2 separate regions of the Homo sapiens genome follow, and region 2 is linked to region 1. Evidence: fine-mapped expression QTL. A gene starts in region 1. The other region holds a variant in brackets. All regions are shown on one strand. Distances are from middle to middle.

Region 1 (11,670 bases):
TTAATGTGGCCGTCGGTGACCGCTACACGGTGACTGATAACTGCACTGTGGGTAGAGCTCAGCCCGCAGGGCTCTGGTTTGTGACCTCTGGGCCAGGCAACTCTCAAGGCTTCTTCCAGTGCAGAATATGATTCCTAGAGAAAAAAAAAAAATTACACATTCGTTTCCTAACATAGGGCCCTGCAACCGGAGAACACCACCACATTGGGAGCTGTGCTTTCCACTGTCTAGAAACCATGGCTTGCCAGCTTGCAGGGTCACATGGAGCCGCATCTCCTTCTGGGGTGCAGGGGTGGGAACACTCGTGACCTGTAGCCGAGGGTGCAGGGAGAGGACAGGGTGAGCCAAGCAGAACAGCCGTCTGTGAGTCATCGTCCCAGGACAACCAGCAAATGGCACAACACCTGCTCTCTCAGCCCCCACCCGCACCTGCCAGCCTCACGTGGGGGGTGGGGGGGTTGGCCGCTGGACAGTCACAGCAGGATCTGCCCAAACTGACCACCCTTCCAGGAGGAGGCAACAGATGTTAGCATCCACGGGTCCTGGGCCCCCCTTCCATACCCAGACTTCAGGACATGAAAAATTGGGGTAAATGAAGGGTGCACGATTATCTTCGGGCCCACACTGGCTTCCTGCGGGTGCCAGAGACAGCTGCCACCGCATGCCAGGGACAATGGCCCCGAGGAGGCGGGAGCTGCCAGGCCGGGGTGCTGGGGGACAGCTGGACGAGGTGCCGACAGGGGCTCATTCCTCCCTGAAGCCGGCCCGCAGCTGCTGGGAGCGTGGCCAGCCACGGGCTTGTGTGTGCCTGGGTCCTGGGGGCTGTGCTGGCGCAGGCCGGGACGGCGGGGACAGGGTCCCACCTAGGGCAGGCTGGTCGGTCTCCGGGGAGGCAGCCCAGTCTTCAGCCTGCGTGCTCTTGGGGTGTCCGTCCCTTCCTCCCCATTCTCCTCCTCTTCTCAGCGTCTTCTCCCCCAGCACCGGGCAGCCCTGGGGTGGCCGAGCCTCATCTCCACTCCCCTCCCTCAGGCCTCTCCTGGGTCAGCCTGGCTTTTTCTCTTAGAGTTTTTGCTTGACAGGGCACTCTCAGGACGCCCTCCTCCTCCTCCCGCCTCGGGTTGGTGTGAGGCGCTCAGGGCAGGGCCCACGTGCCTGTGGTCACAGGACACTGAGCTGCAGGGTGAAAGGACCACACCTGGCCGATCTCCCGGCCGCTGCAGCTCACTCTGGGTTTGCAGAGAAGCCTGTTTTTAAGTGAAGTGCCTTCTTAGAGAATAAGACACACCTGTATCTAAATGTTATTTTTAAACTGCTAGATGCGCCTTAATATAGACAAAGAAGTAAGGTGAGCGTAAATGACATGATGTATTCCGACAGGTGACAGCGCCTTCCGGGCGATTCTGAAACACCAGTGCAGGGCTGTCTGTTGTCTTTTGTTTTCATTTTACTTTTTTTTTTTTTTTTTGAGACAGAGTCTCGCTCTGTCGCCCAGGCTGGAGGGCAGTGGCACGATCTCGGCTCACTGCAAGCTCCAGCCCCCGCGTTCACGTCATTCTCCTGCCTCAGCCTCCCGAGTAGCTGGGACTACAGGCGCCCGCCACCATGCCCGGCTAATTTTGTTGTTGTTGTTGTATTTTTAGTAGAGACGGGGTTTCACCGTGTTAGCCAGGATGGTCTCGATCTCCTGACCTCGTGATCCACCCGCCTCGGCCTCCCAAAGTGCTGGGATTACAGGCGTGAGCCCCGGTGCCCGGCCTCATTTTACTTTTCTAAAATTCGAGGCGAAATTCACATAGCATGAAATAAGCCATTTGCCAGTGAACGACTCGGTGTTTAGCACCTCACAGTGCTGGGCAGCCATCGCCTAGTTCCAGAAGATTCTCATCAGCCCAAAAGAAAACGTCCTACCCCCGGACCACTGGCTCCCCACTCCCCGTCCCCAGACCTGGACCACAGAGCTCCCTCCTTTCCCCGTGGCTTTGCCCACCCCGGACATTTCATGTAAATGGGCTCACGCAACTCATGACCTCCGCGTCTGTCCTGTCCCACTGAGCTTGATGTTCTGAGGTTCATCTGTGTTGTAGCACGTGTCAGAACTGGATTCCTTTTTATTTTATGTTTTATTTTAGTGAGACAGAGTCTCGCTCTGTGGCCCAGGCTGGAGTGCAGTGGCGCGATCTAGGCTCACTGCAACCTCCACCTCCCGGGTTCAAGCGATTCTCCTGTCACAGTCTCCCGAGTAGCTGGGATTACAGGTGCCCGCCACCACACCTGGCTAATTTTTTTGTATTTTTAGTAGAGGCGGGGTTTCACCATGTTGGCCAGGCTGGTCTTGAACTCCTGACCTCAGGTGATCCACCTGCCTCGGCCTCCCAAAGTGCTGGGATGACAGGCGCCCGGCTCCTGGATTCTTTTTGATGGCTGAATCATAACCCAGTGCACTTTTGATTAAATTCAGGCTGAAATGGGCACGACCAGAGCTGCTGGTCCACCTCTCCCCGGCCCAAGCCCTGCCCCCGGTGACCTGCTCTGGAGCCATTCTGGGCAGTGGATGGGACCCCTGCGGTCAGCGTCTCAAGAGAGCAGACCCTGAGGGAAACTTGAGCTCAGAGAGAACAGGAGCTCCCAGCAGACCCTTCCGCTGACTGCTCCCACCCTGGGCAAATGCAGAGCCGGAGCCCGGAGCGCTGGAAGCTGGAACAAGAGGCCCTTTTCTGCTCTGCACAATGCCCCATTGTGCCCTTCGCGGGGAGAGCAGCTCGGCCCAGCGAGGGGAAGCTGTGCACAAAGCCTCCTTGTGAGGGCAGCCCCACCTGAGGACAGCGCAGGGCCACACCTGACGCAGGGCAGTCCCTCTCGCCGTCCGTCCCCTAGCAGGCCTGGCACCCAGACAGGGCCCGCTCTGCAGGCGTGGTCCCAGGGTGTGGGGCTCCCTGTTCCCCACAGATGAGGGGAACAGTGTGGGCTGTGCCGGCCCTTCCTAAGCTGGCCCCCAGGTCACGAGGAGAGGTACGGGTCGTGGGCTCTGTGGAGGGACTTGGGTGCCGGGCGCCAGCCAGGGCCGATGCCTCCTGCGATCCCCAAGGCTCCGAGCCCTCAGGCACACACCACGCTCCCGGAGGCTGGGCCAGCATGCGGAGGATGTTTGTGTGTTCGTACCCGTTGCAACATCTTTAACAGGGTCCCATTTCACAGCTGGGCTCCTAAGGGGGGTTTCATAGAAAAGAAATGGAAACTAAAAATGAATTAAACCATAAGATGTACACGTATGCTACGGCCCCAGCAACACAGGGAAGGTGGAGGCTGAGAGGAAGCTCGGGCCACTGCTGGTCAGGCCTGGATTTGGGGGCCCGATGTCCACAGTCAGTCCCTGCCCACACAAGGCTCACACTGCAGGTGGTGAAGATATAATTAAACAGGTAATTAAACAAGCAATAAAGACGGGTCATTTGACCAACCCAGTGGCGATAATTGATACGCCAAAACACTAGGAAAGCTAGAGAGGCAAAAGAGAAGAATACATGAAAACAAAAACAAAAAACCAGGACAAATATTTCCAATATACACAAAAGAACAGGATTTTTCATACGTAAAGAGTGCTGACAAATGAATAAGGAGAAATCTGCACTTCCACCTAAGTGCCCCACAGTTTATTCACTAACCCCTAGGTCTCCAATGCCTACTCTAGCCTCACGCCCTTTCTTTCCTCTAAGGAATGCCTGTGACCCCAGCCCTTCCTAGCACCCGCTTCACATCAGCCTCCAGAACCCCGCTCCAGTCATCAGAGTGTAGAGTGCTGGCGTCCTCCTTCATGTTCTGTTTGGGGCATTGGGCAGTTAGCCCTTCCCTCCTGAGTCCTGAGTCCCCCTCTTCCCCCACAGCTTGAAGTCCAGTCCCAAGGGCAGGCAGGAGCTGGGTTGTGCAAAGGCGGAAGGGTGCTCAGGCTGGGAGAAAGGGGAGGGTCCCCCGAGCATTCCAGGCACAGCCCTGCCTACTCTGTCCCTTGCTGGCTGCGACGATCGCCCTAGCACCCTCCTCCGCAGAGAGTGAGTGTCAGCTGTGAGGCAGGGGCACGCAGTGGTAGCACCGCCAGGGCCTGTGCAGCCCACCTTCCCCAGGACCACAGCTGGGAAGGCGCCTGGCTGGGGGAGGGCACCTGGCCTCTGCAACTCGGACTGACGGAAGGCACGCGTGCCTGCCCCAGTGAGCTCGGGTCGGGCGACGCGCACCACCTCCCAGGTACCCGGCCCCGCGCCCTACCCGCAGCAGCGCCCAGCGAGAACTGCGAAGGAGGCAGGCTCCGGGCACCCGCTCCCGCGCGTGGGCGGGGCCGGCTGGAGGGGGCGGTGCCTCCGGGACTGTGAGCGGGGCCTCCCGGGGTGTGGGTGGGGCCTTCGGCCGTGGGCAGGGCCGGCCAGGGAGAGGCGGGGCCTCCGAGAATGGGCGGGGCCTCCGAGAATGGGCGGGGCCTCCGGGAGTGCGCCCTCCCCGCACATGCGCCCTGACAGCCCAACAATGGCGGCGCCCGCGGAGTCGCTGAGGAGGCGGAAGACTGGGTACTCGGATCCGGAGCCTGAGTCGCCGCCCGCGCCGGGGCGTGGCCCCGCAGGCTCTCCGGCCCATCTCCACACGGGCACCTTCTGGCTGACCCGGATCGTGCTCCTGAAGGCCCTAGCCTTCGTGTACTGTGAGTGCCGGGCGGGCCCGGGACATCCGCCAGTGTCACCTCCGCGCACCACGACCCCCGCCCTCCCTCGAGACTCCTCCGCGCGGTCTCGCGGCCGCGGCGCCCCCACGCAGCCCTCCTTCCTGCTGGGGCCCGGGCAAGGCGGGGCGGGCAGGGCAGGACAAGGCTTGCTGGCGACAGCGCACCCGGCCCTACCCCTGTCGCCGCCTCGAGCCTCCGGCCTGGGCTCCTGGGCTCCCGGTTCCACCCGCAGCCCCGAAGTTGCACGGCCGCGCCTGCCAGGACCGGCTCGGGGCTATGCGAGGCGGGGCCGGCCCGGGCCCTGGCCCAGGAGTTCCCAGGAGAGCTGGGCAGGTGGAGGGTCACCCGTCCGTGCGCAGGTCGGGGGTCTGCGTCCTGGCTGCGGGGCGGGGGGCGGCCTGGAGAGGCGAGGCGCTCCTGCTGTCCCCGACACAGCGCTGTGCTGACGGTGAAGGTTCCCACTGTAACTGGACGCCCGCACGCCACATCCCTGCCGCGTGCGGCCCCTGCCAAAATCCGAGGAGCCGGCCCGGGAGCCTCCTTCGCGTCTCCCAGGGGCTGAGGGAAGGTGACTGGCTGGTGGCCAGACTGGAGTTTCTCCTTTAGTGTTCTCGACTAGCTCAGTCTGCGTTCGGGAAGATTCCCAGCGGAGGTCTGGGGGCAGCTCCGGAACCTCATCTGCAAGTGAAGCCTGCGCCTCACTGTGGGATGTGGTTGGCCGGGTCCACTGGCGGAGACCCTTCACCCCACAGCTGTGCGGGGCCCGCGTGCGCAGCCTACAGAGCAGAGCTCTGAGAAAAGTCAGTTCACGCTCAAAACCTCTGGATCCCCTGGCCAGGGGCAGCTGGCGATTCCAACTCCCTCTCTCCCCAGTCCCTACAACCCAGAACTGGTTTGGAAGAGAACGGTTCTGTGATCACGGTGACATGTGATCACACGGATACATGTTTCATAAGCCCAACGTGTCAGGAGCTACGAACCTCAAGTGAGGCTCTCAAATGAGTATGGAAGTGAGGGGAGCCTGCCAGGCCGAGATGCAGCCAGCGGGGCGCGTGGGCAGTCACCGTCCCAGAGGGCTCCGGAGCTGCTGGCCCCGGGCGTTGCCCACGCGTTGGTTGTAGGCCGTGGGCATTGGACGTCTCCCTTTCCTTCCATCGTCTGCTTCCCTCACGTGTGGAAGGAAAGGGTCAGGTTGCAGAAGTTCTTCTTTGCACAGCCTTTGTGCCACACACGTCGCGGGAAGTTTGGTAGCCTGGTTGTGCTGGAGTGATGCTCAGTTCGACGTTTTGTGTGACATTTGTGTGATACTTTCCACCTCCTGGTGCAAAGTGATGAGACGCGCTCATCACTACAAGGTTTCCTGTGGGATTGCAGTATCGGCTTCAACTGGGTCTGTGTCTCTCTCTCTCTTTCTTTAAAGCAACTATTTTATTTTATTTATTTATTTTTTTCGAGACGGAGTCTCACTCTGTTGCCCAGGCTGGAGCGCAACGGCACCATGTCGGCCCACTGCAACCTCCGTCTCCTGGGTTCAAGCGATTCTCCTGCCTCAGCCTTCCGAGTAGCTGGGATTATAGGCACGCACCACCATGCCTGACTAATTTTTAAAAATATTTTTAGTAGAGACAGGGTTTCACCATGTTGGCCAGGCTGGTCTCGAACTTCTGACCTCAGGGCCTCCCAAAGTGCTGGGATTACAAGCGTGAGCCACTATGCCCGGCCTGCAATTATTTTAAAAAGTAGTTCTTCCCAGGTTGCTTTTCCCTCCACAGTATTAAACAGTCATTTTAAATGTTGGTGCTGTCACTTAGCAAACGATGAAGTAGAGATAAAGTGAAGCTGTGAGGCTCTAATAGGCCTTCCACAGGGGAGCCCGAGATACAGCAGGAAGTCCCAGCGGCCTTGCCTCCGGAGCACAGCTTCATAAAACCAGCTCAGACTCTTTCAAACGAGCTGAGGCTCCTTTGATCTCCGCAGGGATTCTCTGTTCAATTCAGAAGGAACTGCTTTTAAGCCACTGGGTCAAGCGGATATTTTAAGCCTGGTGCCCAGCATTGAACATTTCTCCTTGACATATGCACGTTCTTCTGTCTTGTGAGTACATTTGGGGTAGAATCAGTGTTTTTCTGCTGTATCAAGGAACCAGTTTCCCATCTTTCAGGGACATGGTTTTCTGGCTGAGCTGGCCCAGGGCAAGCAGGCAGTCATCCTGCATTTATCTCCTTCTAGAAAGTTCTGGATTTTACTGGGACTGTGCGCTACTCCCTGTTCCTCAGAATCCCAGGGTTTTTCCAAGTTGCCATAGGGGCTCTCCAAATATTTCACTTGATACTGAATTTTACAATGTTTATAGCTATTGAAACACTTGTAATTAAACACATAACCAAATGTATTCTGTGGAAACTCCCCTTGTTAAAAGACATTGAACTGAGGGAGGCTTACCCTTAGGCAGATTGTCTCAGCAGACATGTAGTAAAGATGTACAGATCAGGAGAACACAGAAACGCCTGCCCTGTCGGGGAAGCTTCGAAGCCAGACCTGGAGAGGCCGGCTGCCAGCGACAGGCCTCTGCATTCAACCTGACTTTGCATCCGTCCTGGGGCTGGCTCCTTCCCACCGCGGGCCTGGGCGTTTCCATGTGCTGCCACCGAGGTGTGTAGGTGCTAGGGGTGTGCTCACTGCACACAGACGTGCATACCGCGGGCGTCCTGGGGTGTCGGGCATGCCCTGCTGTGCTGTGGGAGCCGGAGTGTGTTAGCGGAAAGCGGCATTTTCACAGGGCTCAGAGTTGAAGACACACCTGTCTTCCTGACGTGTGGACTCGGGTCCCTAGTGTGATTACTGCGTTGAGCAGATGCTGAAGTAGCACCCTGCCCGGTGCTGACCTCCTGGTGACAACGCCACTACCCCCAGTGGACAGCGAGGAAGCAGGGTCAGCCACTGGCCCGGCTGTGCAGCGATTGTCCGTAGGCCCTGGAGTTCAGCCCTGCCCTTCATTCACGCCACTGTGCAGCCTGCGTATCCTGGACACCCGGTTCACATCTGGGCAGCGGCGTTCTCGGGCCGTGACGGCTCCTGGGAGGACCGAGGCTGCCCGAGGTGGTCGGGGATGCCTGACACTGACACTGAGCTTCCCCTCAGCACAGATGTCACTCCCAGGAATGGCTGAAATCTGGACGAGTAAAAGCTTATGTGACAGGAGTTTCCGGCCTAAGCAGCGGGACCTGGGTGCCATGTTCTTGGTGTGTAGGGGCAGTGCCGGCCGCCCATGGGTGCCGGTGCCTCCTGCAGTCAGGCCTGCTGCTGTCTGTGTGCGCAATAAGGAAACCGAACCCAAGAGTGGGCACCATGCCCAGGCTCACCGGAACAGAGGGCAGAGCAGCCTGGCCAGAATCCCTCACTGTTTTATGGCAGGAACCCCCAGGGTCGTGCGTCGACGTTGTGGCCCGGCGTTCCCTGCGGAAGATTGAGGCCCTCACTGGTCAACCCTGCAGTACGGGGGCGTGTGTGGCAAACAGCTGGTCTGGAGCCTCGTCAGCCAGGCCGGCTCCTTGATGCTTTGAAATCCCCCTCCCAGGGGGCCTGGCCAGGTCCGTCCATGGGCGGCCACAGGCAGCTGGGGCTGGACTCCTGGAATTTCCAGCAGCCCTGTGTCTGTTACAGCGCCAGTGGTAGAGCTGGATTCCCTGACAAGACGGGGGAAGGACAGCCTTGCAGGTGCTACTGAAGACACCCTAGGCTAGAGCTGCCCACCCTGGGTGGGTTCTCCTGGACTGAACTGACGTTGGTTTGCTATTGATGAGAGTCACATAGTATATGTACACAATGCATTTTAACTGCCTCAGAATTAAGGTGTTATCTGGAAACAGTGTAATTACAGTTGGTCAGAATTGGGTTGATAGCAGTTCACTGCAGAGAACTTTCTGGAAGCTGTGACAGGTGGAAGTAGTGGGGCTCAGGGTTGGTGGGCCACACCTTAGCTGTGTGGCCTTGGCCAAGTTGCTCATCAAGACCTTCCTGTCACTGATGAGGTGAGAGTGACCGCTGGGCCGTCCTGAGGCTGACATGGGATTCCTTGCCTGTGCACACTTCCCAGAAGGCGGACCAAGGACACACCCGCCTGGGAGACGGCTCGCAGGCAGCCACGGAGTATATATATCTGAACGTCGGAAAGGACCTTTCCTTTGAAGCTCAAACATTTATGAGATATTGTTACAATTCGGAAGGGATCTGTAGGTGAAATGTGACATGAAGACTGGGTAACGTTGGCATTTGCAGACTGACTTTATGTGTGGCACTTTTCGTGGGTGCCATGGCGTCGGCGCAGAGACACTCCTGAGGGATTTCGTCTGTCGGTCCATGTGTTTGTGGGGGCCGAGTCCTGGACAGGCCTAGGAGGGAACCGCCCCGGCCAGGGCCGGCTGCTCGGCGCCTGCACAGGGCATGAGTGCTGGGGGCTTTGGGACACACGCTCCCTGCTGCCTCTGGGGCAGATGTCCACCTGCACTGCTTGCAGTGAGAGGCTGGGGCCCCAGTGGACGAGCCGTGGTGCCTGAACTGCTCCCGCTGTGTCCCCGCCACGTGAGGCATCTCTTCCTGACCGTGGTCCTGAGACCACCTGGCCTCTGCCTTCCCAGGGTTAACTGTACTTGTTCTCTCCGTGGCTGCCGACACCCTTCTGGCCTTCAGACTTAGCCCTCATCACTCGTGGACTCCTGACCCCACCCAGGGCTGACCACCGGAGCCCTGCTCTCTGCTTCCTTTGCGGCTGATATTGTCCCCATTCCAGTGTTGTTCTTGTGCCTGTCTCCCCTCTAGCTCCTTGCAGTCAGGGAGAGGACTTTCTTTATACCTCTATCCCTTGTCTTCTAGGGGCATCTCCTGCTCAGTGAAATGTGCTGACCCGTAGCAGGTGGTCTCTACCAGGGCTTAGTGTCAGCATGGGACACTTTTCCAGCCATTACCCCTTCTTTCCCCTCTACCCACCTCCAGCCCCGAGGTGCGGCCCAGCAGGACAGATACTGCCACAGCCCTCCCTTGGTTGTGTTCATACTTCCTGGGCTGCTCATGCCTTCCTGTTTGCTGGTGGATTCTCTTTTTGCTGGAGTGTATCCCCAAGCAGCTTTTCCAGAAAGGACCAACTTGCCCGGATCTCTAATTCTCCATCAAAGCCACTTTCCCTCAGAGCTTTGCAGCATTGAGGAGGCATCTTCAAGCATCTGACTCTTCTTCTCCCTGGAAGCTTCTAAAGTCTCAGTGCCTTGCCCTCCTGCTCTCCACCTTTGCTCTCTGTTCTGGTTATTTATCGAGGAGTCTCTGAGGCTCTTTTTTTTGCTCTCTTGTAGTGGCCTTGGTGAGCTCTTCAGCCTCAAGGCTTGTCCTTGGCTCTGGATGAGGCTCTTCTGGCCTCTCCCCAATCTGCCCATGTGTTCCAAACACCGCATGCCCCAGCTGGGTTCCAAACAGGGCGGGTGGGGGCCACTCTCCTGTCTAGCTTCGTAGCGTGGGCTGAAACCTGGGAAAGTCTCTCCATGAAGCTGAATGGAGAAGAACATGGCTTCCGCGAGGCCCTAGGAGCCAAGCACCACACAGAACCCACCGCTTGGCTGTGATCCCGAGTGACGGGGACAGCCTGGACTGCAGAAGGAATGCCCAACGCTGGCGGGAACGGAGGGGCTTTTCTTGCTCGTCTTTCCAGTTCCACATTGTCACATTGGAGTCCTGGGCTCACTGAGATTATGTTGAAAATCCGACCTCTAGGGGATCTCCATGCTAGTTTTGTCCTTTAGGCGTGGAGGCATGCGTGCCGCACTGTGGCGTCTGTTCTGTGCGCCTGCTCACCGCCCTTCCTTCTTTTCCGCGTGGGGCAGTTTTATCGCGTCTCCCCGGCAGCTGCTTCGGCGAGGTGGGGCCGCGGTGCCATTGGTAGCGTGTCTCTGAGTCTCACCGCAGCCCTTGTAGCTTGGCATCCTCGTCAGATGACACCCGAGGCAGGGTTGACGTGGCAGGCAGAATCGTTTGCACCCGTATTTGCTAAACTCTCAGCTGTTCTTCAGAAAATTTGAGGAGAAAATGAAACCAAAAAGAATACTTGAAACCCTGCTCAGTTGGTTTTGTTCTGAGCTTTCAGTGGCTCTAAGAGCTCATGGGAAATGAGTTCTTTTTCTTTTCTCCGGGCCACTTGAGTTCTAATGAAATGCACCACTTGGTTTTACAAGTTCTTCTATAAAATACTTGCTTGTTTAAAAAGCAAACAGCACTGCCCTACTTCGGAGCTCTGCAGCACATCCCTTAAAGAAAAAATACTTGAGGTCACTGTGCTGAGGCCCAGAATTTAACCACGGCCAGTAAGAACCATCAACAGAGAACGGCATTTCTGGGATGACTGTTTTAATCTTACAACAATTTATCTGAAAGGAGAAAAGAGAAAGCTGATTTTTTTTTTCTGATTCTTTTTTTTTTTTTTTTTTTGAGACAGAGTTTCACTTTTTCGCCCAGGCTGCAGTGCAGTGGTGCAATCTCCTCTCACTACAACCTCCGCCTTCCGATTTCAAGAGATTCTCCTGCCTCAGCCTCCCGAGTAGCTGGGGCTACGGGCACAGGCTGCCACGCCCAGCTATTTCTTTCTGATTCTGAAACAAAGTATTTATCGGCCATGCCTGCTGTTGGCTGCTCGGGCGACACGGTATTTCCTCGGTATTTCCTCGTTGCAGCTCCCAGGTCAGGCTCTGGGTCCCTGTGAGAGGCGGGTGGCCGCCATGGCTCTGCTGCCTCCCGTGTGGGGTAGTGACGGGGCCTTCCGAAGCTTGACTGCTTGGTTAGTTTTGTTTTGAGAGCCTGTGATGTTTCAAGATTTTTACTGCATCTTTTTATGTAGCTATTTTTATAACATGAGTAGAGGTTGAAATAGTTTTTTTCTCTCTGAAATCTCAATTCAGTCTGTCTTCCTTTTTCCTGATAAG
Region 2 (11,670 bases), 110 kb after region 1:
GGCTGTGGCTAACCGTGGGCCTGCATTGAGTTCATCATCGACTTTAAAACTGGAAGATGGAACAGACACTTACCCCTGTTCCTCCCACTAAGTGCAACCAAGATCCCTGGACGTTATACATAAAACAGGAAGACCGAAGGTGAGAGAAGAGAGCCACCAGCAGGGCCCTCGGGACGGAGCCACAGCCCCAAAATGGTGGTGATCGCCTAGGCTTGCTTTCGGCCTCATTTTCTAGACTTGGGGGTGAGGAAACTGGAAACCCAGTAATGCCAGCAGATGCAGACAAGAAACACCTCAACAAAAATCTGCTCTCTCTGACTAAAGGGCCAGAAAAGAGCAGCCTAGCAAGACAGGAAATTTACATAAAATAATCACCACTCCAGGCAACACCACAGAAAAAACCATGGCCCCACCCACACCAGCAAGGTATGGAGTAGGGAGCCTGGACTCTCCTCCAAACGGCTCACTGGGATGCTACCAGAGGAGGCCAAATAGGAAGCTGAGATTTTCATCCAAGTGGGCAGGAAGGATCCCCCGCTTCTGTGGTATCAGTGGAGACCACACGAGGAGCCTGGACTCCCCCAACCCCTGGCAGTACTGAAGGGCTCCTCCCCTCCAGAGTGGTATTACGTAATAGCTACCAGAAAGTCAGGACCTTCACCACCACCCAGCCAGCAATGACTAGGCCACCCCCGCCATAGTGTCATGGAGGCCTAGTGCAGAGCCACGACTCCCACCCTACCCAGAAACAACAAGGAATACTCCCAATGCGTCCACTGGAGTTCTACCCCAACCTGGCAGGAGCAAGGTAATACCCCTGTCTCTACCAGCATGAGGTCAGAAGAAGTCATCTAAAGCAGAAGGTTTAAATAAGATCCAAAATCTCCTAATACACAAAATGTTCAGTTTTCAGTGGAAAAATTACTTGTCACAGCAGGAAACAGGAAGACATTGGTGAAAAAGGACAGTCGACAGATGATAGCACCAAGATGAGGGAGGTATTAGAGTGACTTCACAGAGATGTGAATGCAGCCGTCGAAAACGCATGCAGTAATTATGAACACAACTGATAAAAAATACAGCCTCAGCAAAGAAATCGGTTTTTTAAAGAACCAAATGAAAAGTTTAGAAGTGAAAAATATAACTGACACAAAACACTCGACATCTGAATGGTGAGGACAGAGGAAAGAATCAATAAACTTAAACATAGAAAGTACCCAGTGGGAACAAGTGAGAGGACATAGACGGGGAAAAACAGCAAGAGCCCCAGGGATCTGTGGGACTGAGACTGTAACAGAAGATCCAGAATTCATGTCATCAGAGTCCTAGGAGGAAGACAGAGTGAGCTTTAGGGCTGAAAATGTACTTGGAGAAATAAGAACTGAAAACTTCCCAAATTTGGCAAAACGGACAAACCTACCGAGTCAATAAACTGAGCAAACCCTAAATAGGAAAAACCCAAAGAAATTCAAACCTAAACACATCAAAGTCAAATTTCTAAAAACCAGAGATAATAAAACATTGCCAGCCTGGCCAACATGGTGAAGTCTCGTCTCTACAAAAATAAAAAATGAGCGAGTATGGTGCCACACGCCTGTAATCCCAGCTACTCAGGAAGCTGAGCAGGAGAATTGCTTGAACCTGGGAGGCAGAGGTTGCAGTGAGCCGAGATCACACCGTTGCCCTCCAGCCTGGGCAACAGAGCGAGACTCAATCTCAAAAGAAAAAAGAAAAGACATGGGTAAATACAATAGACGTTCCTTCTCTTGAGTTCCAATCATGTTGGATGGTTAAGCAAAGGCTATAAAACTGTCTGAAGTAGTTCAAAGTTTATGTAGAGGAAGTAGTTAAGATAACTATAAATGGATGAGGGCAAATGGACATAGAGGTGAGGTTTCTATGCTTAACTTGAAGTGGTAAAATGACATCAGTAGACTGTAAGTTACGTGCCAAGAACAGCCAGTAAAAAACAACCTATACTAAGAGATACATTGGAACACACTATTGACAAATCAAAATGGAATTCTAAAACACTTACATAACCCATAGGAAAGCAGGTTGGGAAAAACAAAGAAATCAGAAACAGAACAGATGGGAAGAAGTAAAATGACCGACTGTATATTCAATGTAAATGGTCTAAATAAGCCAATTAAGAGATAAAGATTGGCCAGGTGCAGTGGCTCACTCCTGTAATGTCAGCACTTTGGGAGCTGAGGCAGGTGTATCACTTGAAGTCAGGAGTTCAAAATCAGCCTGGCCATCATGGCAAAACCCTCTTTACTAAAAATACAACAATTAGCCAGGCATGGTGGTGCATGCCTGTAATCCCAGCTACTCGGGAAGCTGAGGCTACAGTGACCCAAGACATGCCACTGCACTCCAGCCTGTGCGACACAAGACCCTATCTCAAAAAAAAAAAAAAAAGATAGTAACTTAAATATATGCATAATGAGCTTATGCCCTGATAAATGCAGCATAAGTTGAAAATGTAAGTCAAAAATGAGTTTAATACACCTACCAAACATCCGTCGTAGCTCAGCCTAGCCTACTACCTTAAACGTGCTCAGAACACTTACATTAGACTACACTGGGCAAAATCACCTAGCACAGGCCTGTTTTGTAATACAGTGTTGAATATGTCATTTACTGAATACTGTATGGAAGTGAAAACAGGATAGTTGTCTGGGCACTCACAGTGCGGTTCCTACCGAGTGCGTATCCCTCGCACCATTGTAAAGCTGAAAAACTGTCAGTGGAACTCTCATAAGTTAGGGACCCTCTGTATAGGCAGGTTGAAAGTAAAAGGATAGAAAAAAATATGTGACTATTAATGAAAATAAAGGATTCATTGTATTAACCTCAAAGTAGACCTCAGTGCAAAAATTATTGGAGACAAAGACGGACAATGAGAAAAGAATCAACCTGCCAAACAGATGTAGCAATCCTAAGTGTGTGCACTAAGCACAGATCTGCAAAACATGTGAAGAAAAAGAACTGAAAGGAGAGCTCGACAAATCAACAATTACGGCTGGATGTTTCAACACCCTTCTTTCAACAATAGGTAGAATAACTAGATGGAAATTCAGCAAGAACATAAAGGAGCACCATCATCGACAGGCAGGGCCTAATGATGTTTATAGAATATGCCACCCATTGCACTGAATGACATGTCACATTTTCTGGGATGTAGTTAAACTAGTGATGAGAGAGAAAGCACCAAATGCATACATTAGAAAAGAGACCTGAGATTTTAGAAAGAGGAAGGATCTCAAATCAATAATCTGACATCAGCTGGATGCCGTGGAAGCACCTGTAGTCCCAGCTACTCAGGAGGCTGAGGTGGGAGGACTGTGTGAACCCAGGACGTTAACGCCAGCCTCTTGGCATCAGGCAGCACAGGAAGACCCCATCGCTTAAAAAATAATAATAATCTAGCTCAAGATCACATGAATAACTAGGAAAAAATTTAAAGCAAGGAGCAGTAAGAAAATAGTAAAAAGCAGAAAATGAAACTGAAAACAAACAATAGAGAAACTTATTGAAACAAAGAGATGGTTCTTTTAAAAGACCAATAAAATCAGCAACCCTCTAGTAAGAATAACAAAAGGAGAAGATACGATTGCCAATATCAAAGATGAAAAAAGAGGTTGGGTGTGGTGGCTCATGCCTGAAATCACCGCACTTTGGGAGGCCAAGGCGGGTGGATCACCTGAACTCAGGAATTCAAGACCAGCATGGCCAACATGGTGAAACCCGGTCTCTACTAAAAATACAAAAACTTGGCTGGGCGTGGTGGCAGGTGCCTGTAGTCCCAGCTACTTGGGAGGCTGAAACACGAGAATTGCTCGAGCCGAGACTGCAGCACTGCACTCCAGCCTGGGCGACACCACAAGATTCTGTCTCGAAACGAAAAAGAGATATCACTACAGACCCTGCAATCTGAAAAGGATAATAAGCGACTACGACAAACATCTACATACATAAATTTTATAACTTGGATGAAATAGACCAATTCCTCAAAAAACACAAACTACCACAACTCACCTGGTATGAAATAATAATTTAAATAGCCCTATAACTAGAAATTGAATTTGTCATTTTAAACTCCAAAAAGAAATATCCAGGCTCAGATGGTTTCACTGGAGAATTCTAAGATTAATTTCCCAGAAAATAGAAGAGAAGGAAAAGCATCAATTTACGTTTTATTTATTTATTTATTTATTTTTTGAGACAGGTTCTCACTCTCTGTCACCCAGGCTGGAGTGCAATGGCACAAACATGGCTCACTGTAGCCTCGACCTCCTCAGCTCAAATTATCCTCCCGCCTCAGCCTCCCAGGTAGCTGGGACCACAGGCCCACACCACCACGCCTCACTAATTTTTTTAGTTTTTGTAGAGACAGGATCTTGCCATGGTGCCCTGGCTGGTCCCAAACTCCTGGGCTCAGGCAGTCCTCCCACCTCAGCCTCCCAAAGTGCTGGGATTACAAGCATGAGCCACTGTACCCAGCCTCAATTTATTTTATGAAGCTAGTGGTTCTCTGATACCAAAACCACACAAAGATAATACAAGAAAATAATATTACAAGCCAATATCCCTCAGTGATATAGACACAAAATTTTTTAACAAAATATTACTAAATAGACTGGGCACAATGGCTCACACTTGTAATCCCAACACTTTGGGAGGCCGAGGCGAGCAGATCACCTGAGGTCAGGAGTTCAAGACCAGCCTGGCCAACATGGTGAAACCCCATCTTTGCTAAAAATACAAAAATTAGCTGGGCATGGTGGTGGCTGCCTATAATCCCAACTACTCGGCAGGTGGAGGTTGCAGTAAGCAGAGATGGTGCCACTGCACTCCAGCCTCGGCAACAGAGTGAGACTCTGCCTCAAAAAAAAAAAAAAAATTACTAAATAGAATTTGCCAATATATAACAAAGAATTCTATGCCATGACCAAGTAGGGATTATTCCAGGGATGAAGGTTGGTTCCGTATTTGAGAATCAGTCGATGAGATCCACACGTTACCAGCTACCGAAGATAACTCACACGATCACATCTGTCAGTGTTGGGAAGGCCCGTGACAAGTTTAACATCTATTCATGATTTAAACTTGGAAAAACAGAGAAGGAGAGGAACTTCCTCCGCTGGATAAAGAGCATCTGTACAAGCCCTGCAGCCAGCATTCTCCTCGAGGGCAAGGAATCACCCTTCACCATTCAGATCCGGAACAAGAAAGGACGTCTGCTCTAACCATCGGATCCGGCATGGTGCTGGAAGCGCTGGGCACTGCAGTACGCAGGACAAGGAAAGAAAAGGCGTGTCGATCACAAAGGAAGAAACGAAACTGCCTGTTTACAGATGACGCCGTTGTCTTTGTAGGAAATCCCAAGGTATCCACCAAAAACACTCCTAGAATTATGAAGCGAGGCCGGGCGCAGCGGCTCACACCTGCAATCCCAGCACTGTGGGAGGCCAAGGCAGGCCAGTCACCTGAGGTCGGGAGTTCAAGACCAGCCTAACATAGAGAAACCCTGTCTCTACTAAAAAAAAATTCAAATTAGCCAGGTGTGGTGACGCATGCCTGTAATCCCAGCTACTCAGGAGGCTGAGGTAGGAGAATTGCTTGTACCGGGGAGGCAGAGGTTACAGTGAGCTGAGATTGCGTCACTGCACTCCAGCCTGGGCGACAGAGTGAAACTCCATCTCAAAAAAAAAAAAAAAAAAAAAGAAAGAAAATTAATAAGTGAGTTCAGCAAAGTCAGAAGACACAAGATCAACCTAAATGATTCAATAGTATTCCTGTACGCTAGCAATGAACACACAGACACCTAAATTAAATACGCAGAACCACTTAAAACCACTCCAAAAAGCGAAATACTTAGGTATAAACCTGACAAAACATGCACAGAACTTACATGCTGAAAACTCAGCAATGCTGCTGAAAGACGTCAGCACACACCTAGAGACACGGCCGCGTTCGTGGGTTGGAAGATACAACAACGTGGAGATGACAGGTCCTTCCAGATTGATGGACAGGTTTAATGCAATTCCTATTAAAAAAAAAACCCAGCAAGATGTGTTAATAGGTAAGGACAAGTCATCCCAAGTTTTCTATGGAAATGTAAAGGAGCAAAAATAGCTAAAACCATTTTGAAAGAGAACAAGGTGGAACGAATCAATCTACCCAGTTTCAAGACACAGAACTACAGTAGTCAACACAGTGTAGTATTGACAGAGGGACAGACATGCAATTCCATGGAACACAACAGAGAACCCACAAAGAGACCCAAACAAACATGCCCGGATGAGTTTTTTTTACAAAAGCGCAAAAGCAATTCCATGGACAAAAACAAAATCTTCGACCCACGTCTCACCCCACACAAAAATAACTCAAAACGGATCCTGGACTTCAACGTAAAGCATAAGACAATCAACTTTCAGGGCCAGGCATGGTGGC[C/T]CACATCTGTAATCCCAGCACTTTGGGAGGCCAAGGTGGGCAGATTGCTTGACCTCAGGAGTTTGAGACCAGCCTGAGCAACGTGGCAAAACCCCGTCTCTACTAAAAACACAAAAAATTAGCAGGGCCTGGTGGCACATGCCTGTAGTCCCAGCTACTCGGGAGGCTGAGGTGGGAGGATCACTTGAGCCTGGGAGGCAGAGGTTGCAGTGAGCCGAGATCACACCACCACACTCCAGCCTGGGCAACAGAGCGAGAGCCCATCTCAAAAAAAAAAAAACTTTCAGGAAAAAATAGAAGAAAATCTTTGGGATCTAGGGCCAGGCAGAGTCATTATACTTAAAGATGATCTGTGAAAGGAAAAATTAATTGAAATTCATTAAAATTAAAAGCATTTGCTCCATAAAAAGACCTGTTAAGAGAACAAAGATAATTTTTAAGCTACAGACAGAAAATATTTGCAAGTCACGTATCTGACAATAGTCTAAAATCTGGAATATGTAAAGAAGTTTCATAACTTAATACTAAAATAATCTTATTAGAAAATGAGCACAGAGACGTTTCACCAAAGAAGGTGCACAGATGACAGATAAGCTCAGGAGAAATGCCTGTCATTAGAGAAGCAAAAACCACCATAACACCACTGCACACCCATCCGGTACCATCACTGCACACCCATCCCGTGACACCACTCACACCGATCCCGTGACACCACTGCACACCCATCCCGAGACACCACTCACACCCATCCCGAGACACCACTGCACACCCATCCCGTGACACCACTCACACCCATCCCGAGACACCACTCACACCCATCTCGTGACATCACTGCACACCCATCCCGAGACACCACTCACACCCATCCCGAGACACCACTGCACACCCGTCCCGAGACACCACTGCACACCCGTCCCGAGACACCACTGCACACCCGTCCCGAGACACCACTGCACACCCGTCCCGAGACACCACGCACACCCGTCCCGAGACACCACTGCACACCCGTCCCGAGACACCACTGCACACCCGTCCCGAGACACCACTGCACACCCGTCCCGTGACATCACTGCACACCCGTCCCGAGACACCACTCACACCCGTCCCGTGACAACACTGCACACCCGTCCCGAGACACCACTCACACCCGTCCCGAGACACCACTCACACCCGTCCCGTGACACCACTCACACCCGTCCCGAGACACCACTGCACACCCCTCCCGAGACACCACTGCACACCCATCCCGAGACACCACTGCACACCCGTCCCGAGACACCACTGCACACCCGTCCCGTGACAACACTGCACACCCGTCCCGAGACACCACTCACACCCGTCCCGAGACACCACTCACACCCGTCCCGTGACACCACTGCACACCCGTCCCGTGACACCACTGCACACCCGTCCCGAGACACCACTCACACCCGTCCCGAGACACCACTCACACCCGTCCCGAGACACCACTGCACACCCGTCCCGTGACATCAGTGCACACCCGTCCCGAGACATCACTGCACACCCGTCCCGAGACACCACTCACACCCGTCCCGTGACACCACTCACACCCGTCCCGTGACATCACTCACACCCGTCCCGTGACACCACTGCACACGCGTCCCGTGACACCACTGCACACCCGTCCCGTGACACCACTGCACACCCGTCCCGTGACACCACTGCACACCCGTCCCGTGACACCACTGCACACCCGTCCCGAGACACCACTGCACACCCGTCCCGAGACACCACTCACACCCGTCCCGTGACACCACTCACACCCGTCCCGTGACACCACTCACACCCGTCCCGAGACACCACTCACACCCGTCCCGTGACACCACTGCACACCCGTCCCGTGACACCAGTCACACCCGTCCCGAGACACCACTCACACCCGTCCCGAGACACCACTCACACCCGTCCCGTGACACCACTCACACCCGTCCCGTGACACCACTCACACCCGTCCCGAGACACCACTGCACACCCGTCCCGAGACACCACTGCACACCCGTCCCGAGACACCACTCACACCCGTCCCGAGACACCACTCACACCCGTCCCGAGACACCACTGCACACCCGTCCCGAGACACCACTGCACACCCGTCCCGAGACACCACGCACACCCGTCCCGAGTCACCACTGCACACCCGTCCCGAGTCACCACTCACACCCGTCCCGTGACACCACTCACACCCGTCCCGTGACACCACTCACACCCGTCCCGAGACACCACTCACACCCGTCCCGAGACACCACTGCACACCCGTCCCGAGACACCACTCACACCCATCCCGAGACACCACTGCACACCCATCCCGAGACACCACTGCACACCCATCCCGAGACACCACTGCACACCCATCCCGTGACACCACTCACACCCATCCCGTGACACCACGCACACCCATCCCGAGACACCACTCACACCCATCCCGTGACACCACGCACACCCATCCCGAGACACCACTCACACCCATCCCGTGACACCACTCACACCCATCCCGAGACACCACTCACACCCATCCCGAGACACCACTCACACCCATCCCGAGACACCACTGCACACCCATCCCGAGACACCACTCACACCCATCCCGAGACACCACTCACACCCATCCCGAGACACCACGCACACCCATCCCGAGACACCACGCACACCCATCCCGAGACACCACGCACACCCATCCCGAGACACCACGCACACCCATCCCGAGACACCACTGCACACCCATCCCGTGACACCACGCACACCCATCCCGAGACACCACTCACACCCATCCCGAGACACCACTCACACCCATCCCGAGACACCACGCACACCCATCCCGAGACACCACGCACACCCGTCCCGAGACACCACTGCACACCCGTCCCGAGACACCACGCACACCCGTCCCGAGACACCACGCACACCCGTCCCGAGACACCACTCACACCCGTCCCGTGACACCACTCACACCCGTCCCGTGACACCACTCACACCCGTCCCGTGACATCACTCACACCCGTCCCGTGACACCACTCACACCCGTCCCGAGACACCACTCACACCCGTCCCGTGACACCACTCACACCCGTCCCGTGACACCACTCACACCCGTCCCGAGACACCACTCACACCCGTCCGGTGACACCACTCACACCCGTCCCGAGACACCACTCACACCCGTCCCGTGACACCACTGCACACCCATCAAAACGGCTGGAATAAAAGTAGCAACAACCCCACATGCTGGCAAAGATACCAAGAAATCGAGTCACTCGGCTGTTGCTGGGAGGGTAAAATGGCTCCTCAAAAAGGACACCCGAAGTTGCAGTGGACTCAGCAGCTGCTTCCATGGACGTTTAAGCCAGAGAGTTGAAACCCAGGTTCACGCAGAAACCCGTGCAGAGGTTTACGGCAGCCGTCACAGACAAAAACTGCAAAGAGCTCAGCTGTCCTTCCACAAGAGAGCGACCGCACAAACTAGGGTGCACTCACGCCGCAGACGCCGGTCAGCGACGAGGAGGAAGGAAGCCTCCATCACACGACCTGGCGGAACCTGAGAATTGGCGTGAGAATCGCCTGCCCCGCGGGTACGTGCCGCAGGGTTCCACTCATTCTTGAAATCATACGTTCTTGAAATCACACAAGGAGGCCGAAGGTCGGGGAGGGTGTGGAAGGACACGGGGGTCCGGGCGTGGATGGGACCCGTGTCTGTGGCCTCAGTGTCAGGCCCTGGCTGCAATCCCTACTATAGCTGTGCAAGATGCCCAGCTGTTGCCAGTAGGGTCTATTTCAAAAGGGCTGGGAGATCCCCTATTTTCAACACTCTCAAGCCCTCCGGGGCGGTGCCATGGCCTTCTCGGGTACTTTGTCTGCAGGAATGAAATGCAACCCTTCAGGCCGCTGGGGCCTGGGGCCCCTTCCCACCAACCTGCCAGTTGGCACAGAGGGTTCTGACCCTTTCCAAAACCCTTTCCAAACTGCAGTTCCAGCTCTTGATGTCAGAGACCAGGCCCTGGGCCCCCTAGGCCTTGACCCTGTCCTGGGAAGGAGCAGAAAGCAAGAGCAGGAATTTGGGAAAGATGGGCAATCCCACTGCAGGAGGCCTTCCCAGGATCCCCACCCTCCCGGCCTCACTAAATGCAGGGTTTGGGAGAGGGTGGGCCTGCCTGGGGACTGCATTGCCCTAGCAAGGCCCAGGAGAGTGTGCAGGGACCATGCTGCCCGCACAGCCCAGCGCCCTCACGGCCGCATTCCAGCCCGTCCCTTCAGTCTGCTGCTGAGCTGCTCAGAGGTCGACCTCGGGGTCCAGTGTGACTTCTCTGCCTGGCACCACCTGGCCTCAGTCCCCATGCTGGCCGCTGCCGTCCTTATAGCCAAGGAAAACCATGGCAGCCTCAGGCCCAAGGGGTCCAGGAAAGACCCCTGGGGCCCAGGGCAGTGGGCAGTGCCCTCCTGGAGTGGACGGGAGCCACCAACTGCCAGCATCACCCTCAGTCTTGGCTGCCCGGGAGGTTTTCCAAAGGCCCGACCCCACTCCTCTTGGAGCTGCTGATCCCTCTCTCCCATCAGGCGCCTCAGGGACCCTCCTCCACCCAGAGGGTCTCTGTCTTCCCGGTTTTCCTGGCGTAATTCAGACTTGGGGAGAGAAGAATCATCATCCATCACACACCCAGACCCAAAGAGACTCAAAGCCAGGAGGAGCCGGGTGGACCCAGAGGCCCTCACCCTGCCAGCCTAAGGGGCATGGCCCAAGGTCTCCACCCCCAGCCCCCAGAGCACAGCTGTGTGCAGGTCACCAGAAGCCCCAAATAATGACAGCAGCCCAGACAGTCGCTACCGGGCCCTGGTGCAGTGTGAAGCCTCTGGCACCTGCCTGGGCTCATTCCAGGGGCCATGAGAGGGTCCTGTTATGGCTGCACCATCACACCCACCGGGCAGCTGGGGCCCAGCTCTGCCATGGATCCCAGCCAGGCAGCAGCCGCCCTGTGGGCTGAGAAGCTTCCGCTCCTGCTGCACAACTGCGAAGGGGCCTGGAGGGCCGGGAGCTTGTGACGGTGACAATTCCTCCTGGCGCCTCCTCCTCCGGGGCAGCCGAGCAACCCTGGACATGAGGGGGCTTCGTCCCACCCCCAGGAGAAAATGCCCAGTCCTCCGAGAGTCCAGTGAGGGCTTGCCAGCCAGGGACCAAGACCCAGTATGGCCTAAACC

Evidence for each region. PIP is the estimated chance that this variant, and not a neighbour inherited with it, causes the effect.
Region 2: its variant is the best candidate, but not a certain one, in a credible set for the expression of LMF1 in whole blood (INTERVAL, PIP 0.60).

What each region holds. Positions count from the first base shown.
Region 1 is chr16:963,805-975,474 of GRCh38, reverse strand. LMF1 (lipase maturation factor 1) reads left to right here and starts at 4,491. Exons shown (of 11, transcript NM_022773.4): 1 at 4,491-4,687. The coding sequence starts at 4,495. It overlaps LOC124903620 (a long non-coding RNA gene), which reads right to left and starts at 1,406. Exons shown (of 2, transcript XR_007064935.1): 1 at 864-1,406; 2 at 1-134. RefSeq lists enhancers at 2,322-3,312, 5,295-6,286 and a silencer at 4,080-5,249.
Region 2 is chr16:855,417-867,086 of GRCh38, reverse strand. The region is part of intron 10 of LMF1 (lipase maturation factor 1); the gene reads left to right. Among named protein-coding and RNA genes, the nearest start is that of LMF1-AS1, 60 kb to the left of the region's middle. The variant C/T (reference allele first, on the strand shown) is at 6,463.